3 linked regions of the Homo sapiens genome follow. The protein of the gene in region 1 interacts with the protein of each later gene in a biochemical or structural test. Each region holds a gene or a part of one and is shown in the gene's direction. Other genes may lie near its edges.

Evidence for each region.
Region 2: the proteins of FGFR2 (region 1) and PLCG1 form a complex in vitro, tested with the Homo sapiens proteins (2 studies listed by BioGRID and IntAct).
Region 3: the proteins of FGFR2 (region 1) and FGF7 form a complex in vitro, tested with the Homo sapiens proteins (3 studies listed by BioGRID).

Annotation. Positions count from the first base shown.
Region 1 is NC_000010.11:121,588,401-121,595,510, reverse strand, and holds part of FGFR2 (fibroblast growth factor receptor 2 isoform 1 precursor), read left to right. Parts: intron 1-1,252; exon of another isoform or gene 1,253-1,543; 5' UTR 1,544-1,636; coding exon of another isoform or gene 1,637-1,693; coding exon 1,694-1,802; intron 1,803-7,110. UniProt on the Homo sapiens protein: Tyrosine-protein kinase that acts as a cell-surface receptor for fibroblast growth factors and plays an essential role in the regulation of cell proliferation, differentiation, migration and apoptosis, and in the regulation of embryonic development.
Region 2 is NC_000020.11:41,140,543-41,147,542, forward strand, and holds part of PLCG1 (1-phosphatidylinositol 4,5-bisphosphate phosphodiesterase gamma-1), read left to right. Parts: intron 1-7,000. UniProt on the Homo sapiens protein: Mediates the production of the second messenger molecules diacylglycerol (DAG) and inositol 1,4,5-trisphosphate (IP3). Plays an important role in the regulation of intracellular signaling cascades.
Region 3 is NC_000015.10:49,426,242-49,433,241, forward strand, and holds part of FGF7 (fibroblast growth factor 7 precursor), read left to right. Parts: intron 1-586; exon of another isoform or gene 587-7,000. UniProt on the Homo sapiens protein: Plays an important role in the regulation of embryonic development, cell proliferation and cell differentiation. Required for normal branching morphogenesis. Growth factor active on keratinocytes.

The DNA of each region.
Region 1 (7,110 bases):
GCACGCACACACCATGTACACACACACACCGTGCATACACACACACCATGCACGCACACACACCGTGTACACACACACACACTGCACACATACTTTTCTTGCTTTTGCTGTGAATCACACCGTTTCACCTGTGCTATCTTTGAAGCAGAGGTTTTCTTTATTCCTCCTTTGGAAATGATGTGGCATATTCTTTTCCCTCCTCCATTTTTGTCCTCAGTCAAAGCTAAAAGGAGCAGTTTTTATGATGAGATTTGGGGAGGCTCCAGCAGTGTTGAAATCCTATGACATAACTTGAAACATCGAGTGGGTACATAAAAAATGTAGAGTTTAGAGATTTTTGTATTAAAGGCCTCCCTGCCACCCCCAGTCTTAGAAAATGTGGTTCATTCCTGTGGTTCACAGAATCTGAAGCCTGAGATTGATGAGCCCCTTCTTGTGATTGTTTTAATCATTCTCTAAAGTTTGTGCATTTTACTGTACCCTTAGTCACAGAGAGTACTGAGTGAATTTAAAGTTGCTTGGAATATATTAAGCTTTCTTGGAAAATTCTCTTTCCCTTGGATCAAATGGGTGAACAGAATATTAAGTTGAGTGTCCTCTTCTAACTTATACTCTGAAAATTTAGCCAGTAGGTTTGCATATGGAAAGTTATTGGTCCAATCACATACCATGACTATAATTTACATAATTTACATCATCATTATTAATAAATTCCTGCATTATTCATCAGAATTTGCATCTGCTCAGTTTCCTCACCCTTCTACAGAGGTTGAAGACATTTAGCAGCCCTGGACTGCCATTTAGTCACAGGGGAAGGGAATTCAGGCTTCGAAGTCCTTTTTGGATCAGCTGCGTTGAATGCGCTGCAGTTGTGTTCACTCTTCGTAAGTGGCTGCTTGGCGGAAGACTGAAAGACACTTCTCCATTTGAAAATGAATCCTGACAAGTGTAAACTGGTGGGAATTTTCTGTAGCCTTCCTGGGATTCTTTTGATTTTGCTGGTCTCCTTTCTTCCCAAGAGCGACAGTGAGGGTGGGAGACTGCTCACCTCCAGCCCAGCAGAAATACGGAGCTGTGAGCAGACTCCTCCAACAGTTTAGCTTTCTAAAGCCCAGTTGGACTAAGAGAAGGGAACGAGGTTGGTTATGCCAACCCGAGCATTTTTAACTTGCTTTTGTAGTTGCCCTTGAAACTAAGGTCACGTTGCTTCTGCTCATTGAGGGCGGTGGAGGCGATAGTGGATAGTAGAAGAGAGCACACATTGCCTCACTGAAGTGGCTGCACGTATCTGAGTCCTGTAGCTACTGTTTTATCTCTGTTTCTTAAAAGTATGCTTTTAAAAAGATTAGCCTCACACATTTCTGTGGACCGGTCTGGTGGTATCACCTGGGACTCTGAGGTGAGGATGGAAGGATTTAGCAGATAATGAAAAAGAACTCTGTTTGCGCACATTTGAGAGGCTGAAAAATGGTTTTATCCCACTTGGGCTGGAGTGATTTGGCATTGGGGAAGATTCCCTGACTCGCCAATCTCTTTCCTTTAGTGACTGCAGCAGCAGCGGCAGCGCCTCGGTTCCTGAGCCCACCGCAGGCTGAAGGCATTGCGCGTAGTCCATGCCCGTAGAGGAAGTGTGCAGATGGGATTAACGTCCACATGGAGATATGGAAGAGGACCGGGGATTGGTACCGTAACCATGGTCAGCTGGGGTCGTTTCATCTGCCTGGTCGTGGTCACCATGGCAACCTTGTCCCTGGCCCGGCCCTCCTTCAGTTTAGTTGAGGATACCACATTAGAGCCAGAAGGTAAGTCATTTAATTTCACTTTTCAGGTTTGTTTTGGGATTTGTCTGGGGGCAGATTGTTAAGGCCTGTTTTAGAATCAGCTACCCTTGCATTGTAAATGGGGCTTCTAAGAGCACCAGATCGTGGTCTCTTGGCTCCCGGCAAGGCAGAGCTGATGAGAGAAGGTCCTTTGCCGCAGCACTGCAGGCAGGATGGTATAGTTTGGTGGTTTCTTGCTGTGTGTGTTTCTCTGTGCTGGGTGAGGGAGACAGCTGGGAGTTGGCCTTTATCCAGTGCCCGAGAGAGCTGTGGAAGGGATGAACCTTGGGAGGATGAATGTCATCTCTAGTCTCCCCCAGCATCATTCCTACTGCTTACAATGTAAAGAATTGCTATTTTCGGACAAGATGAACCACTAAAAGAAATTGCCAACATCTGAAATGCTGACATCTTATTTTCATTGTTTAAGGAGAAAAGAAGTTTCTGAAGTTTAGCACAGAGAGAGAGGCTTGACATCTCAGAATTTTTTTTTAGCCATTGTAATTCATAATACTTAAGCAATGCATCATCACAGAGTGGCAGATTCTAGTTTAGGTAAACTTGAAAGTGAATGTGCCAGGGGATCTCCTCCAGCTCCGAGAACCTCCAAGTATCACAGGGCATGCGCCGGTGTCACAGCTTTGGAAATTTAATTTTCAAGGTGTAAGTCCAATTACGAGGACTACATGAGGCTGAATTATTCAGCTTAGCAGATTTGGAACCTCTCTCCCAGCCCTTTGGAGACAACGTGAGCCAAGCCTCTACTTGGTGCTGCACTGAAATCTGTCATCAGTAGGGAATATTGGTAGCTGAGTTATTTTTCGAGTGGTAATCCGAGAATAAAACGGCAGATCCCAGCACTCATCGCCACTTAATGAACCTGTTTGTGGAGAGTCCACCTGGTGCCTGCCTGGCTTTAGGAACCCGCAGCAGTCCGAGTGGTGTCTGGGGTAAGCTGAGCTGCTCTGGGAACACATCTCGTGCGTGGGGTGAATGAACAGCACACTTACCCAGTGGGGTAGGCTGGGAGAGGACAGAGAGCCCAGCCTCCTTAGCTGGATCAGGACAGTTTAGGAAGGAGGGTTGCGTCCATCTGAGATGAGAGTTCTGAGAGACATGGGCTCCCCAGGAAGACCCCAGGCACTTGTCATTGAAGGATGAGGACCGAAGCACTTATCACCTGAAGCAATCGTGTGAGACTGGGGAACTTTTCGTTACACAGAGGGATGGCAGCTCTATAATTAACAGGTGTGGTGACATCTCCCTGCGTCTCTGGGAAGGGAATCTGGTAGGAGTTTGTGTCTGAGGCTTGTATAGCTACAGCTACAGGCCGATTATGGAACTGCCTCTTGGTGATTTGTGCTGGGACACCAGGATGAGTGTAATTTGCAGTGGTGATGCATTTTTACAGGGCTTTCATGTAAGAGGGAAAAAGTTCCTGGTTTCTGAAAGTCATGCCTGTACGTCTTTAATTTTGCTAATAATTAAAATGGATGTTTCCGTGATTGCTGGTTTTCCCTTGAGTGCGTGGCTCGGCAAAAACTGAGGAAGCTGAGCTGGGATTTCCTACGGTGTGGGCTTTAGGAGCAACCCAGGTTAGGGAAAAACTGTCATTTTTCATTTTGGCTTTTCAGGGCAGCGTTATTGTGAGTTTATTTCAACATAAAGTGTAAAATGGTCCCAGAGGATTTGTTTTACTGTATTTAATTCTTGAAGGAAGTTTAAAATTGTGTATACATGCAGGGAGGGACAGGTGAGGCAGAGGGAAGAAATCGTGGAAAGGGACGAAGTTCCCCGAGTGAGTCTTTGTGTAAGAATTTACATCCAACAATGTGGGTATTGTTGGAAGCAGGCCTGCTCAACCTGGGATCTGTGGATGCACTTATGGATCAGGAAGGAGGTCGATGAAGTTCTGGAAATTTTAGGTAATATTTTGTTAATGTCCTTTTGTGCATTTTTATGGGTTTATAGTTTCCATGAGCTATGAGTTCATTTGCATCCAGAATTATGAGATGGAAAAGAAAAGATGTCTTAGAGGAAGGTGCAAAACCTGGCAAAGAAGAGGCTTTGGAAAAGTATACAAGTCCCAGGCCTCAGTTTCCCTTTCTGTCGTCTGAGGGCTTAAGAAGATGATCTTTAGGGTCTCTTCATTAATAGTCATTGAATATTAATGTCCTCAGAAGTCTTCTGACTCTTCCACCAAAAGGTTGTTAGGAGATTTCCATTTGACCTGGACATAAAGAGCAATTAGCACAGGGGCTGGCATCCAGTAAGCACCGGGTGCATGGCCTTGTCGCCGTTGTCGCCAGGGAGCTGGGAACATGGGTCTTCCCAGTCCCGTGGGCTGGCTGTGCCAGGTGCCACAATGTCAAAAAACATCTAGGCTTTTGGAGACAGTTGAGAAGAAAGTTGTTTTTGGATGGAGGAGGCCCTTGGTGTTTCCAGGAAGCTGTGTTTGCTTTCTGTAGGGTCCCCACTTCCCCTCATCTGTTAGTCTAATACTGGCCACTGATTTGAGCCCTAAGACCAGTTCTTCTGTTGCAGGAGTTCGCTTTGGTGTCAGAGGTGATTAGGAAGGTCATTGAATTATAGATGAGAAAGGAGTTTTTAACAGCTGAAAATGGGCTCAGGTTTAGGCTCTGTGCTGGTGAATTGGAAGAGAGAGAGAGAGAGAGAGAGTGTGCGTGTGTGTGTGTGTGTGCGCGAGTGCGCGTGCGTGCGTGCGTGCCTGTGCCCCTGTCCATCAGTTCTCCATGATTAGAACTACTATAGCTTTGGTTAGCAGTAAGTTCCACCTTGACCTTCTGTGCACCAAGGTCTTATCTTGTAAGACTTTTTGGTTTGCTAATTTATTTGGAAGCTCAGTTTAGATAATGTCTATTGGATAGGAGAAAAATGTGACTGAGAAGTTCCAGGAAGAAGCCTGGGCCCTAACACTAGAGGGTCCTTTTCTTTTGGCCCCTCAGGGAAAGGTTATGTTTAGTCATCTTGGCTTTGTGCAATATCGTATCATATCATATGTCATATCATATATCATATATATCATTTGTCTTCTGGACACGTTCTGAAATAGTAGCAGTGGGGTTGGGCCCACTCAATTGACTTAAGAAAATAATCTCTAGAAGATTTTAGTTTTTAATATTTCAGATTAAATATGAGTTTTCCAGTTGGTCATTCATTGTTAATTTCCTTTTGGTCATTCATTGTTATAGGGCACCAGCAGAGGAGTGAAAACATGGTTATTGACTCGAAGGGGGGCAGTCCTCAATGCCAAGTACTATTCTGTTGATTAACATTATAAATATTTGAAGTCTAGTCAAGCTTGATTACCCTGAGAGGGGGCAACTCTTACTTTCAAGTTCTTCCTGACATTGTCACCTACTCTGGTTAATTAAGTCATTGTTGACATTAATGGCATCTTTGTTTACACCAACCCAGTAGGAGCTAAAATGAAAGGGCTTTTCAACCCTACACCCTTAATTACTTTCCCACCCTCCACAGAGTGTGACTCTGAAAAGTAACAACCTGAAAAAAAATGTAGTTTGTGTAGCAATTTTTTGTCAATCTTCTGAGAGGTGATGCTCTCCTGGACCAACGTGAGTTGGTCCAGAGTTCAGTAGCAGAAACGTCGAGGACAGGATCTACACAGAGACCTCCCTAAGTCAGATTTTTCCAGTATGGTTTAAGTCCTTTGTTAGAAGTATTGTAAATGCCATAATATTAACCATACGCATTTAATTGCAAGTTAAAAGAAAGGAAGAAAGAATATATCCGCATACCAAGAGTGAATGATTTAAAATAATCTTCTGTTTCGTATTATCTGCATCTTTGTTTTTCAATATGAGTGTTAATATTTAAGAGTTGACTGTAACTTGATAGTTAGCTTTGGAACAAGGACTTATTCTTGGTCAATTAAACCAAATACAGGCTTACGCAGTTAAATACACAATGAAGTACACATTCTTTATTAGTATATAAAGTGTTTCACAATTCATAGACCAAGAGCCATGTTTAATATTACTTATAGAGCAGAAATCTGGCAAGCCCAGAGAACTGGTACTTGTATCATTTTATACTGGCTCTCTCTGATTCAAATTTGGGGTATATGTGTGTGTTTCTGTTTTGTCTGTTTATTTCAACCAGTTAAAAGACAGAGCACTTACTATGCCAATGGCCCCGCATCAAGCCATAAGTAAAGACTTTATTCCTTTCAAGTCTTTCTGACCCAGTTGAGGGTGAGAATTCACAAAACCACAGCAATCCAATATGAGATGTTTTTAATATCAGACTTAACAAATAATTACATGGCTATGAAATAACTGGGGTCGTGTTTAAACTGGAAGTGTTTTGTTTAATGTTCGTAGTTTCAATAAAATGTATCCACTAGTCTTCCAGTTTGCAGACTGTTGTTTAGGTGTTTGTTTAGCCAGGGTAATTGTTAAAAACTCCCTCTAATCTAGCTTACCCTTACATTTCCATGGAAGCGAATTTTAGTCATTAAAGGAAAACATGGGAAATTGATTTTTGGGTGCCTGGCTGTTAAGCTAGGTAGGAAATATAGCTGGTGTGCTACTCTCCACTGTACTGGTCCGATTCTCGCCAGGGGGACATCTCTGTAGGCAGTTCAGAAATTATTTTTTGGAAGTTTTTTAGGCTATTCCACAGATAATTCTGATCCAGTAGGTTTTATGCAACTGTGCAAAATGCTTATGGTCTCTATTTTTTTTTCCTTGAGAGATGATTTTAGCCTTTGGTTTTTTGTTTGTTTTTGTTTTTTGAGACAGAGTCTTGATCTGCCACCCAGGCTGGAGTACAATGGTGCAATTGTACCCTCACTGCATTGTCAAACGTGGCTCACTGTACCCTCGGACTCCTGGGCTGAAGGGGTCCTCCAACCTCCTGAGTAGCTGGGACTACAGGCCTGGATAATTTTTAAAAATATTTCGTAGATATGGGGTTTCGCCATGTTGCTCAGGCTGGTCTCCAACTCCTGGCAGCCTTGGCCTCCCAAAGTGCTGGGATTACAAGTGTGAGCCACCACACCTGTCCTAGCCTTAAGTTTTGCATTTTTTTCCATCTTTTTGCTGTATCCCATATGATTTAGAGATTTTTGCTGTATCCCATGAGATTTAGAGATGGCTCTACTTTTTTTAGCTTTCCTAGCATTGAAATGCTTGGTGTTGCTAATCATACCCCATCTTTACCACACCATCTTCCTCCCTGACTTGCCTTCTTAGTGTAGTTTGGTCAAGAACTTGAGGCCAAGTTCTTTTTTTTTTTAAATTTAGCT
Region 2 (7,000 bases), on another chromosome or scaffold:
GTGGTTTAAGGAGCACTCATACTGATATGTAAGACCTTCTTCTGCCCTGACTCTGTGCCCTCTCTTGTCAGCAGTTGTGAAATGGAGCTGACACCTCCTGATTTCTAGGGTGGTCATTTGGCTCAAAAGCGGGGTGGGGAAGTGCTTAGGTGTTGACAAGTTTGGTTGTCCTGGTGGTATGACAGGAACCAGGTTGGTGTTTGGCCTTTTATGTTGCAGATACTGACATAAATGAATAAAATGCAGTTATGTAGAGTTCCAGCTGAGTGCTATTGAGACCTTTCGTCCCATTTTACAGATGAGCAAATGGAAATGGAGAATCGTTTGTGCCCAAGGTGTTGTGTCAGTGTGTGCCAGGGCCTCAGCTGGGGCCAGCTCACTAGTCAGAGGCTGACTAGCAACCCCAAGCCCATGTTCCCTGTGGTCCACGTGGCTCCTCTGTGAGACACCTTTGTGCTCAGACCATGCATTACAGGGCAAAGACCACTTTGGCTTTTGTATCCCAAGACAGCCTCAGCCTCTCTAGGCTCTGGCTCCACACTTTTTCTTCTGGTGTTTTCTGAGTTGAGATGGTTCAGACTCGTGTTTAATGAGGTTGTCCATTTGAGGGTCTTTGTGGGCCCAGTAAACACTGGTGTAGACACTGTGGAGGTACTCTGAATACTGGCTGAGCATGTCCATGGGGACTTCTGAGGCCCCAGGCTTCTGTCTTTGGCTGATCCTTCACTAGATACTTTTCTAGATGCCAGGCCCTCTGAGGTGAAGGAGTATGGGTGCTTGCTTTTAGGGAAATGAAAACAGGCAATGACAATTGTGAGCAGTACCTTTGATGAAGAGGGTGAGGGTGGCGGAAGAAAACAGCTAACTGCCTTGATGAGGCAGGCGGGCTCAGAAGGGAGGTAGTAGTGGAACCAGCTGGCTGGGGCTTGACCCCTGTGGCTGGGGAGCAGACCACACCAGGAGGCCTGCTCCGAGGGCTAGGCCCACAGCACGGGAGAGGGCAAGGCCCAGGCCGGTGTCATCAAGGGTTTTCTTTGTACTGGCTGTTACTCCCAGTGGGAGAGGGGCAGGAGCACATGTCCGGATCTCCAGAGCTAGCCATCCCTGCCTGTGTATTTCCTGTCTGATGTAGTTTTTTCCAAGGGAAGTCAGACCTTTTAGTGTTTCCTCAGCACCCCAGGCTTGCCCCGATGTGTGGGTTTCCAGGCCCCCCCGCCCAGCTGGGATCCTCTGTTTCCTGTGAACCTAGGAAAAGGGCCTGCTTCACAGATAACTGGAGGAGCTGAGCACACCCAGTCCTGGGACCCACAACACCTCCAGCTTCTCTCCAGACTCTTGTGTGTGTGTGTACACAGATGCACAGGATTCAGTTGGAGTTTAGAGATCTTGGCTACCAGCTTTGCTCTGGGTAGCTTCTTGGAATGAGGCACATTTATTAATATTTGCAATAAGTATTATTATACCTCCCCATTTGCCCAGTGCTAGGCACCAAGGATTCAAAAGTTTATTGAGACATGGTTTGTGCCATTGATGAACTCTTGGAAAAGACAGATGTAGAGGCATATGATTATAACCCTGTGTGTTACATACCATAATATAAAGGCCTCTACCAAGAACTGTGAGGAGCTCTGCCAGGAAGGCATTAAAGGAGAGGTGACCTTTGAGGTAGGCCTTGAATTACTGAGGCACCTGTCTGTGCCGAGGCTAAGGAACTGGGAATCACTCTGTGCAGGGGTAGGGAACAGATATGGTGTGGTAGAGAGGAAGCTGGGACTGGTTGGAGACAGCTATAGCCCTAGTGTGCCATGTCCAGCAGATTACACTCAGTCCTGGAGGCGACGGGAGTCAGCGGAGGCTGTTGTGGGACTGACTTGCCTCTGCCTGGGAGACCACAGTGGCAGTGGTTTGTCAGGCAGGTGTTGGGGAGGGAGGCCAGTGAGCTCCTACGGTTTGCACAGTTTGCAGGAGAGAGCTGCTGAGGGCCCAGACAAGACCTTCTTGCTGAGGCAGGGTGGGGATGCCATGGTGGTAGATGGGAGAAGGGCTGGGTCTTGAGGGGTGAGACAGAGCTTAGTAGTTAAGCATTTGGGCCCTAGACTCTGCTTGAATTAAAATCCTGTTGTGCAGCTTACTTGCTCTGTGACCTTAAAGCATATGACTACCTCTCTGGGCTGCTTATCTGTAAAAAGGATAGTATTAAATGGCATTTATTTTATAAGGTTTTTGTGAGGATTTGATGAGAACCTGTATAAAGTGCTTAGCACCTGTATAAAGTGCTTAGCATGGAGTGTGGCACAGTGTAAGTGCTTACTACGTAGGATCCCTGACAGGACAGAGATGAGGATTAAGTTCTCAGGAGGACCTGGTGGGGAGGAGTTCGAATGCACCTGCTGTCCTAAGGGGCTGGTGCCTGGCCACCAAGCCCTTTGATTCAGAGGCAAGGAGGCCCGCCCATCCTCTCTTGCAGCTCTCAGCAGTCCCTCTATTGTCAGGGCTCTTTCCCACTGCTGGTTTTGCAGGGAGACAGGGCAGTTGGCTGGAAGCAGCTGCTTTGGGTGGTAACCCCTTCTGTAGAGTGAAGGTATGATATTGTCCTATTTCTAAGTGCCTAGCCCAGGACGCTATCTGGAGAGATCTTGTCTTTGAGGAAGTGCTCTAATGCCACAGCCTCGATGTGGTAGGGCCTGCCTCTGCTGTCACTGTTCTGTGTCAGTCTCCGTTAACTCACAGCATCTCTTCTTACTCTGTGCCTTTTCCTGTGGGATGTGGCTTCAAGGAGACCACAGATGATAAGTTGGAGGAAGGGAGTGAGGCCTGAGATTGCAAAGGTGTGATATTAGGAGACTGATTTTTCCCCCTTTCCACTTGCTTTGTTAGAACTAGAGAAGTCACTGCAGACTGTGAGGAGAGTCCTAGGAGAGATGGGTGTGGGATAGGAGGATGGGAATGTTCTGGTGCCCCTTGTAGAGTGCCTTGTTGAGAGGAGCATGGGAACAGTGCGTCCTTGGAGGGAATCTCTGAGAGCAGCATGTTTACAGGTGGCAAGACTCAAGGTGGAGCCACGGGTGAGGAGTGGCTTCAGGCTACCATTGACCAGATAGTCCCACCTTGCTGGTAATTGAGCTGAAGTGCCTGGAGATTTGTGGCTAGAGCTGGTCAGATTTGGGTTCAGGTCTCAGCTCTTACTGTGACCTTGGGCAGATTACTTTTCCCTGTCTGAAATTGATCTTTAGCTGTAAAAGTAATTTCTCCTCACAGAGCTGTATATTAATAATAAGGGAGATTATATATAAGAGTAAGAGATTTTATGTGAAAACTACCCAGCACAACATTTGTCACTTAGTGGCCACTTAACAGTATTCATTTCCTTTACTCTCACCTTTGTTAACCACAGAGCTCCAATCTTTTCCACCACTAAGCTCGGCCACAAGTGGCTGCTCCAACAACCTGGGCTAGGAGTCTGTTTCCTACTTGCTTTCTGTGTTCCTTCCCTGAGTCTGTACACAGAGGACTGGGGCATCAAAAAACTCTGGAATTGGAATAGCATATTGGGAGTTCATGGAACATTTTCTCACCTGTTGTATTGTTTGAACTTCACAGCAGCTCCATGAATCCATGGAGGGCAGGAGTTACTATCCCTCTCTTACAGAGGAGAAAACCAAGCCCTAAGGGTAAGGTCACATAGCAAGTTCATGGCAGATCCTAGGATTTCAGATTCCTGCTATAGTATTCAGTTTATTCTCCCATTCTGGGGAAAATGATAATAGGATGGACCGTTCTATAGGAACAGAGGGTTATTTTGTTTTGTTTTGTTTTTCTTCCCTCTGGCCACATGTGTTTGACCAGCCTAGACTTCCATCTGTGGACAAGCTGGACTCATTGCCTCAATTTCAAAACCCGTCCTGCACTCATCCTTGCCACAACACCGGTGTCGAGATGCTTGGCCCACCCAGACCTTTCCCACACTCCTACATGGGGGTGAATGTAGCCGCTGATTGGGGGTGGGACACAGAAGAGCCTCACCCTCTTGACTTTCTGGTTTGTGGTGACACTTCCGCCTAAGCTTCTACAGAACATGGGAACCTGGGGCTCCATGCCCCAAATATCCTGAGAAGGGCTTTTCCAGGATTCTCTATGACAACTCAAGAGCATGCATTCATTCATGTGCTCTTTAATTTGTCATACATTTGTTGTGGGCCTTGCTACTGTGTGTTGGGCACACTGAGCTGGATGTGATTACTCCAGCCTCTGACTTGTTCATGGTGGCAGTAGATCTCTAGCGTGGTTTGTGTTCCATCTCACCATACCTACTCTCCTTAAAAAAAAACAAAAAACTAGCTTTCTTGGGCCTCAGTGGCTCATTGAATAAGTGAGAGACGACTTGTGCTTCCCTGGCTTTAGACTCTGGCATTTGCTAACTGTGCCAAGCACTGTGGAGACCAGTAGTGGACATAAGGTTAGGGTAGATACAGCCAGAAAGGAGATAAATAGGCAGACAGATAAAATTCTTATAGGATTTGGTGAGTTCTATGAAGGAAATAAGGCAAGAGGCTGCTCTGTCAGGGTAGGTGAGGGTGTGCTGTGATAACAAATGATGCCCACATATCAATGGCTGGCAACAAGGAAGGTTAATTTCCCCTGTTTGCTATGTGTGCTAACCTACACCACCGTCCCTGGAGAGTGGCCTCAGTGGTTCTGGGTGAGGCCTCTAGTACAGAACCTGAACACCCTGGGCAAACTAGGCTGGAGAGGGATTTGGAGTATGGAGGTTTAGAAGGAATTAATTTCTATGACTTAGGATGCATGTGGTGAGTGTGGCTTTGCTGTTGTGGTAGAGTAGAGTGCTGCCTGTGTGGGTCAAGAGACTGTCTTGGCTGACATCTTTGAAATAGGTATATTTGTGTGGCCCTTGCCTAATTGTCATCTCTGCCATAGCTGCCCCCGCCTTCCCCACCAACCCATGGCCCTACTTGAGCTGCCTGCTGAGCCTACTCTGTTGTGGCCACAGTATCCTCCTGCTGCCCAGAGTTTGAGTTTCTCGCTACTTCTGCCACTCATCACACTTGCTTCCCAGAGCTTTGCTGGGTGTGCTGAAGTCTCCAGAGAAAGTGGGGAATATGGGTGCCTAGAGACTTCTAGGGGGTGTTTTCAGCCCCTAGAGAGTAGAGAAGTGTGAGAAGGGGTTGGTCCCCGAATATTCTGTAGTTTTGGGGAAGAAGCAATGGGGACAGTGGAGTTGGTTGCCTTAAGAGAGGCTATGGTCCCAAGAGATGGGACTTGGAGAGTCTCTACTTGCATTCCTGGCTAAGCCCTTAATATTCTCGCACCCCTCCTTGCAAGACTAGTTCCTTTTGAGGTGGTTCTTGGCTAGCTTTTGAGAGGCTGCAGTGGCTGTGTGCCCAGGCTTAAGTCCTAGCTTTCTCCCCACTCTTTACCTCCTAGGAACCGGGCCCATCCTGGGGGAGGCAGGGAGGAGCTCCTTTTTATAGTCCACATGTAGGCTTTGTGTATAGGCTCTGCTGCTTCCTTCCGGCCCTGGCCCTTCCTGGTGTTGGCCGGTGGCCCTGGCTTCAGCAAGACTCAGGATGCAGAGTAAACGGGGCAGGGCGTTCTCCTACAGAAGACTGGCATCCCTTTTTACTGAGCCCAGGCCTGGCACAGAGGAGGCTGGAGTTAGGAAGCAAGAAAACGAGGTGACCCAGTCCTTGATCCTGAGAAGCTTGTGATCTGGACCATGCAGAAAACCGCTAATGCCCAGGGCTGGCAGGAGACAGCTGTGCCTAAAGTGCTGTAGGCTGGGCCTGAGGGCCAAGATGGAATCGCTTTTCTCCCTGTAGCAGCCCATCCTACCCCCTGGGGTCCCTCCACCTGCCAGCTGGCACACAGGTGTTGGGTAAAGCATCTGTACAAAGGCTGTGAGGGGCCTGGGCGCAAGGCAGCAAGGCTTGGGTACGGAGGAGAGTGGGTGGTCTTACTGATGTTCTGGGCCCTGACAGTGAACAGCTGGCCAAACTGGTGAGGAGTTGGGCCATGGCGAGTTTGGCCACTTGTTTGTGTGTGTTTAGTTCTTCCTGGGCACAGGTGGGGAGTTCACTTTGGGGTTGGCTTCCTGTTTTCTTGGACACCTGGGGATATGGTTGAGTTAAAATGTTCTGAGGGAAATGATTGTTGAGGGCATGGGCTTGGGTCATAGTGTCCTTGGCTTGGCCTTGCCCATGGTAGGAGTCGGGTATTGACCACACTGGGTTCTGGCTGTGTAGGTGTGGATGTGTGGTGGGAGAATTCCAACCCCACCTTGACTTCAGCCTAAGGCCCAGAGAGTGTGGGCCTGAGTTCACAGGGTGACTAACCCTAGGAAGGAGTGAAGGAGAGCTCCAGTTGGCCATAGGTCCCACAGGTTTCTCAGCTTACTTGGGGGCAGGAGGTGAGCTAAGGAATACAACTCCATTCCCTCAGTTGGGAGGTTGGGCAGCGATGGGGGCAGGGGTGATGGTCCTTCTCTGAGGCACTGAAGACCCACTTTATGGTCACCCTATTCTGCCTGATAGTCCACCACCTGTTTGGAGGCAGCTCCCCTCTTCCTGCCCTAGTCACTTCCTCCACCTTCAACAGTAATTGAGTATAATGTGCCTGTGTTAGCTTGTCCATCCTAACTGGGACTGTGGCCTTTTCTTGGGCGTTCTTAGCATATCTACCAAGGAGGTTGGAAAAGGTAACATATGTCACTTTGTTAAGGATTTTGCTGAGGGCCTTTTGAGGCCAGCAGTGAAACACAGAGCATTCCCTCCAGTGAGAACAGAATGTCTGTTGCCAGACTGATCACAAGAGGATGGCCTGGTTCTGGCCTGAGAACTGGTCTACACCGGAAGCATGAAGCTCCATACAATCATGTGTGCTAGTAAAGTTTGGGCAAGCAGCTGTCCTAAGCAGGTAAAACGATAGGTTATTCAACTTCAACTTCAGAGAAAGAAATCCAAGGTAGCCATCTCTCTCAGTAGGG
Region 3 (7,000 bases), on another chromosome or scaffold:
TCTATTCTATTTTAAACCGCAGAATATATTTCATAAATATAAAGAAACCTAAATACCCATTGTATAATTATCTCACACAACGAATGAGATGAAAGTAATAGGATAAGCTGTCAGAACTAATTTCAAATTATAGCAATAAGGTTACCAAACCTTAACTGTGGAATTCTACATGCTGACTACTCCTTTTGAATCCTTTTACCAAGTAATGAAAAAGCAAAAAAGTAGATGTAAAATCCAGTGAAAATGAATAGTATGCATAATTATTTAGGATCAACAATATCTTCAACTGGAATACATTTGCATATGTAAATTTTATTTTGTTTGTGTTAAAATTTCTTGAAACAATGAAACTCAGGTAGTACACATGCATAAAATGCTAAAATTATTTTATAGTTTGAAATACAATTTAGTGCTAACTTTGAGTAACCCTAAAGCCAATTTTGTAAACCATCTCCTCTAACACCAATTCTATAGCACAAAAGAAAAAAAAAGGAAGTCGCCCTATATTGTTATAAATTAGAATGTCACAATACCAGTGTACTAAAAAGACAAGATACACATCATGTAAATAATTTTTACTTCTATAAACTTTTTAATAGGCTGTATATATGGTATACTTTCTTGATATCGTTAATTATCCTGGAAAGGGAAACTTTCATCAGAATCCTTTAAGTAAACCCTAAAACTGTCGTAAGGTTATGTGGCTATCTTATTGGAGAAGGAGTCAGTAAGATTTCTCCAAAGTTAAAAAGAGGATAAGCCACTCTTTTTTTTCTATAGGAAGTCCTTAGGTACAGAGGGAAATGCTACAATGAAGAATATATGGAGAATAACATGTTAGAAGAAAATTCTGATAGCCATTTCCTATTATTTGAAGGGTAGCCTTACTATAATAATTTTAAGAGTGAATGTCCAATTGTGCTAATTGACACATGTGAAGTTGAAGCTGCTATATTAGGAAATCTAGGTTCAAAAAATGCTCAGAATTTGTTTAAAATAACAAGAATGGAAACTTGAAATTATGACATTTGAAGATTGTTTACATTCCTCAATCATTAATTGAATGAATGGACAAATAAATGAATGAAAGAATGTTTCCTTCCTATTTTCATTAAAATGAGAGAAAAAGGTAATTGGATTGTCTACTAGAATGAAATGCAGCAGGATTCTGATTAAAGATCAGAATCAAACTCAGAATTTCATTTTCAATGTTTTGATGCCTTAAATTTTTTCAACAGGTTGTCATGTCAATCACCTTTCTTTGGAGGTCTTTTAAGTTAGTATAGATTTTAGTGTCTTGGAAGATAAAATTTTACATGAAAAGTAATATGCCAGCTATGCAAAATATAATTATTCTTCTGGTTACCAAAAGAAAGTCCCCAATCTTTTCTCATGACTTTTTTTTGAATGACTGACCTGAGAATGTCAATAGGCTTCAGAGGACTACTCACTTCACCAGCAGAAGCAATGCTTCCACACAGGAATGTGGTTTTTTAAGATACTAGTAAATATGGATTGGAGCTAGCAGGAGAAGTAAAATATCTAGATGTATAATTCTGCTTCCACAATGTTTTGGGCTCGGGTAGATGGTTGGAGGGCATGGAGAAAGAAAAGGGAGTGGTGGGCAAGTGGATGTGACTGCTCATGTCTCATAACTTTAGGGAATTTTAAAAAATTACTTAAGCTATCCTGGATTGTGAGGTTGTCACTTACTTTAGTCTTACCTTAATTACTGTGTTGTTTTGTAAAATATTTTAAGTTTAGATTAGAATGAATATATTACAGAAAGAGTGCATCAAGGAACCCAACGGAAATAAGACTTGTATTAGTAGACATATAAATAAGAACTATGAAGATGGGGGAATTCATGAGAGGCCAAGAGATACTGGACCACATTTCTGACTCTTGAGGGGACAGAAGCTGCTACTAGAGAACTGGTCATAAGGATTGTGTACTACTGTTACCCAGGAGGCAGAAAGTCTCTCCCCTTTACTTATCTCTCTGGTGGCTTCACATTTAGCCTAACAGTGGGTTTCCAGGTGATGAAACTAGTATCTAACCTTAACTAATAATAAGAATACTAAAAGCATAAAATGTCCCTCCAAAGTACACATTCAAAATGAAGTAAATATTCATTTTCTCTGCAGAAGAAGAAGAGCATTGAGAACATCATAAAAGGGTGAAATGAATGGTCGATACTTCCACTTTTGTTGTCAGAACTCTCCCCATGGGGACAAGATCAGAGGGTGAATTTAGATTACTGCTGCACCAGGCAGTCCAACAGCAGACAGAGGCTATCATTCTGCACCTGACAGAAATAACACTGCTCTTTAAGCTGAGTATTGAGGTGCCGAGTGAGAGAAAGCAGCAGTGCACTGGGCACTCAGTGACCGCCTTGAGAGACAGATGTGGAAGACAGAATCCAATCCCTCAGGATAATTTTCATGCTTTTGGTATCCAATTACTAAAAAGTTGTGCTCTTCCCAATAATAGTCAATATCATCTACTCCTTTTAAGAATTTCTTGTCATAAATTGCCTCACTTGATTATAATGAAGCACTGTTAGTTCCATAGCAAGAAAAGGGTTAGCCATTCTGAAAACTGGCCAATGATTTGGCAATATTCTCTTTTGGACTGTTAGACTGTGATGGGATATGGCCTAACAATTGGCAAAAGGCAAATAAACACAGCGTTGCTGAATTTGACTTTGGCTACAAAACCTTCAGCGACTCATTTGTCAACAATTCTTTGGATAGGCTCCTACTTAACAATAATGTGTTAGAAGCTAGCAAATACACATATTGCCTCTGAATATGGAGATGGTAAATTTGCTTATATTCTAAACAGTTCTTAGCAAGTTATCTAAAAGAACAATAATTCACATTATCAGAATCAAAAATAGCAATGTAAGGACAACCCCTGCCTTTAAAAAAATAGATAATAAGTAACATATCTACGCAGTCGAACCAAAATCCTAGCAATTATAGACAAGGTAGAATCTTGTAGAACTGGTGACCCGCATTCCCTTAAGTAACTTGTTAGGGCTTTAAATTATGAAGAATGGATAAACTGCTGGGGAGCAGATTTGAAAATATTAGCCATTCTTTGATTAGTTTTTAATTTTATAATCTTTTCTTTTTGGCTATCACATGTGCCTGGCACTTATGAAGTGCTAATAAGTTCATTCATTGCCACGAGTGCATCTCTTATCATCTCTTTTCTCTTTTGTAAATCCTCATCTAGACTGACCCTTATGACTCAGCTGTACAATAACTCTTTAACCTACAGTTCTAGAGCATTCAGAGGCCCAAGTGAATTACAGAGAATGGAAGAAGTCAGCTCTTAGATATATTGAAAGGGTTGCCTTTCTACATTTTTCTATCTCTCAACCTTGTCTAAATATTACAATCAGCTGGGGAACTTTAAAAAAATACTGATGCCAGTTTCCACCCACAAAAAATTTTTCATTAAATTGATCTGAGGTACAGTCTGGGCATCAGGAATTTTAAAAGCTTCCCCAGATAATTCTGACATGCTGCCAGGGATGAGAACCACTGGACTAAGGGGATCACATTAGATTACTGGGGAATTAAGTCAGAATCTCACAAAGGTGGGAAGGACCAGGCATTAGTATTTGTTAAAGTTCTCCAATGATTCTAAAGTGCAGCTAAGGTTGCAAACCACTGCTTATGGAGAACAAGAATTCTAATTCAGCCTGGACCACCTCAGGGGTCTTGGGAATGTTTCAGACCCTGTAGAGGGATTCAAAGTTAACTTGAACCCTAGAGGATTTTGAAATAGGCTTGATTAGGCATAAATCTCTGAATTATGCACCAAGAGGGTTCTTCTGGGCTCATCTGACCTCTCTGACAAATCTTAGTGGCTCCAACATTTGGTGAACTGGCCTGGAAATGTACGTGATGATAGCTCTGTAGCTACTATGTTAAGAAGACTGCTTTGGTGAATGAGTTAGCTGCAGGGAAGAATAGGTTCTGTACCACAGCCTCACAATGACAGGCAGGTCTGCATCTCTTCTGACACTTTAAAGTGGTGTTGCAGTAGGGTACTTGAAGTACAGGCCTCAATGTCTGCTTATTCTGCACTTAAATGAGCCACCTTATGACTATGAACTCAGATGCTCCCAGATTAGGATCTCACCTCTCATGGCCACACAACCAAGTTCAAAGGCAGAGGTTTAAGGAGACAACCTCTAGCCTAGGAAACCCAGGGGGAGAGAACCACAATTCTAGAGGGTTGGCTTAGTCTGCTTTGTGTTGATATAAGAGAATACTGCAGATTGGATAATTTATAAAGAAAAGAAATTTATTCTTCACAGTTCTGGAGGCTGGGAAGTCCAATATCAAGGTAATGGCATCTAGCAAGGGCCTGCTTGCTGTGTCATTCCATGGTGGAAGGTAGAAGGGCAAGAATGTATGAGAGTAAGAGAGTATGAGACAGACAGGGCTGAAATCATTTTTTCTAACAACCCATTCTCTTCATAACTCACTTCTGAGAAAATGACATTAATCTATTCAGGAGGTTGAAGCCTTCATGGCCTAATCACCTCTCAATGGTCCCATCTCTTAATACCATCACAATGGCAATTAAATTTCAACATGAGTTTTGGAGAGGACATTCAAACCATAGCAAGGGTCTATCCAGATCAGAGAAAAGACATAAAGCTAGAGGACTGTTCTCTTTTTAAGACTGGAATGATGCACAACATTAGGGCAAAGCTTTTTTTATTTTCTAAGGATCATAGCTTTCTTCCTTTGTATCACACAATTTTTGGTAGCACAATAACTTCTCTAACATCACTATTGGAATACAATACTTTTCCATTTTTAAATTTTATATATCTCACAATAAAATTATGTATACTTAAGTAATATGGAGAAAAATGACTCTTGTTCAATGAAATAGACTTTAATATAAACTCCTTTACTAAACAACATCTAACATTTTTACCCCTCAAATAGGTTGTAAATGAAAATCCTCTGCCTTCCACATGATTTGGAAAATTGTGTTAAAGAGTCCCTGAATGTTTAACCGCTTTTGGACCAAGTTTTTTATCTGCATTTGAGATTATATCTGGACATATCTTTAGTAGAGAAGTCGTGTCAAATTCACTAACAAAAATGTCATTAAAGTTCCTTAACTATGTGTATGAAAGGGTTTGTGTAGTAATATGTAAAGACAAAGTGATTAAGATGGGGAGTGAGAGAGGAGAATTATCCAGTACCCATGCCCAAGTAAACCTTGTCTTTAGGCAGGCAACATCATTCTCAGAGGAAAAAAATTTGATGTATACTGGGGAGAATTGGCTCTAGAGATTCTCCAGTTGCTTAACTTCCCTCCAGAAGAAAGTAATCTCTTCTACTGGAGTGGTCATGAGTACTTGATAGAGTCATTAGCTAGTGTCCATCTAAAAATAAAGAGGAAGAAAATATCTTTGTGAACAGGAGGAAAAAGAGCAAAAGAGAAAAGGAAAAAGACTTTACATAAAAATTATTGGATTTTAAATCTTCTGTAAACTTAAAATGAAGCAAAGTTTCTCATAAAATATAGCCCCACTAACTTTCTTGATGCACTTAAAGAATGAGACAATGGAATGACAAGATAGTAGAAGGAAGAAACAAAACCACTAAAATGCTGGGGGTTGGATTTAACTAGAAATTGAAATAACAATTTCAGATAATAATACAGAGGGGTTGAAATGATAATAAATTATTACAGGTATTACTCAAATAGGTTTGAATCTCTTGGTTGATTTTGTGCCGAAAACTGTAATAATCTTTGCTTATTTATCAGAATTATTCTGAAACTGAATTTATTTTTAAGATTAATGTAAGAGAAATAAGACATGTTTCAATATCCTCAAATATCACATTTGTTATATTCTATTGTAATATTTCCCATTTTATCTGGCTACTTGAACTTTAGATGTAACTGTAAGTAATGCTAAGAAAATAGTTTGAGACCAAATTCAGAATGAACTCAGCTTGCAGAATTTTCTTAAGGTAATATTTCCAAACTGTGTTTCTTTATAACACTAGTGCCCCCTGAGATATTAAGGCTGTTTCCTGTAGCACAGCTTCTCTAACTAACCTGCTGAGAAATATTAGGTTAAATAAAATTGAACAATTTTCTTTCAGCAGAATTTCTCTGAGTCTATACTATACTAATGAGAATTTTTAAAACTCTAGGAAAAGAGTATACATGATTTCTTAAACTTATTTGACAACATAACACTCCTCCTCTCCCTCACCTCCATTCTTAGTCCCTGGTTTGGGTGGAATATTTAAATTTTATTAAATTTCAACTTGAGAGCTATTGTCTAAGGATCTATCTTTGGTGTTGTCAAGAACTAAACGAAGTTGCCACTAAATTGTTTGAATCAAATAAAAAAACTATACAATTGACCTGAACCAACATTTTAATAATGACCAACTAAGCATGTATGCCAAAGTCAGAAGATTATATATGATTTCGGACTATTAGAGTAATATTTTGTGCATGAATACTGGACAGAAATCCAGGGATTTGCAGTGGGATTTAAGCCTAATTTAAAATTCTTTCTGAGTTCTGAGCAGATTTATAGGACCACCCTCCTGTAACAAGAAATGATGCCCAACAGCTATTATTTGGGCCACCGATAAACTAACCAAAAACATTTCCTATGCTATAACCTAAAAATGCTTTAGGATCCTAATATGATTGAAAAATTCTTACTGTATATATCTAAAACAATAAATTTTTACTTTTCGAAAAAGTAGTTGGAGCAAAATTTGTTGCTATTTCAATTATTTCAATAAAGAAATGTTTCATTTACTGGCTAAAAATTATTTAGAAATTTAACATAATCTGATGAAAGGACTACAAATTTAATGAATTAATCTCCACATTCTTCAAAGAAATCAATTATTTGAGATTTTCAATACAGAGCCAGTAATGGTCTTATTCTCTTTCTGTGCCCCAATTGCTTTTCTACCTGTGTACA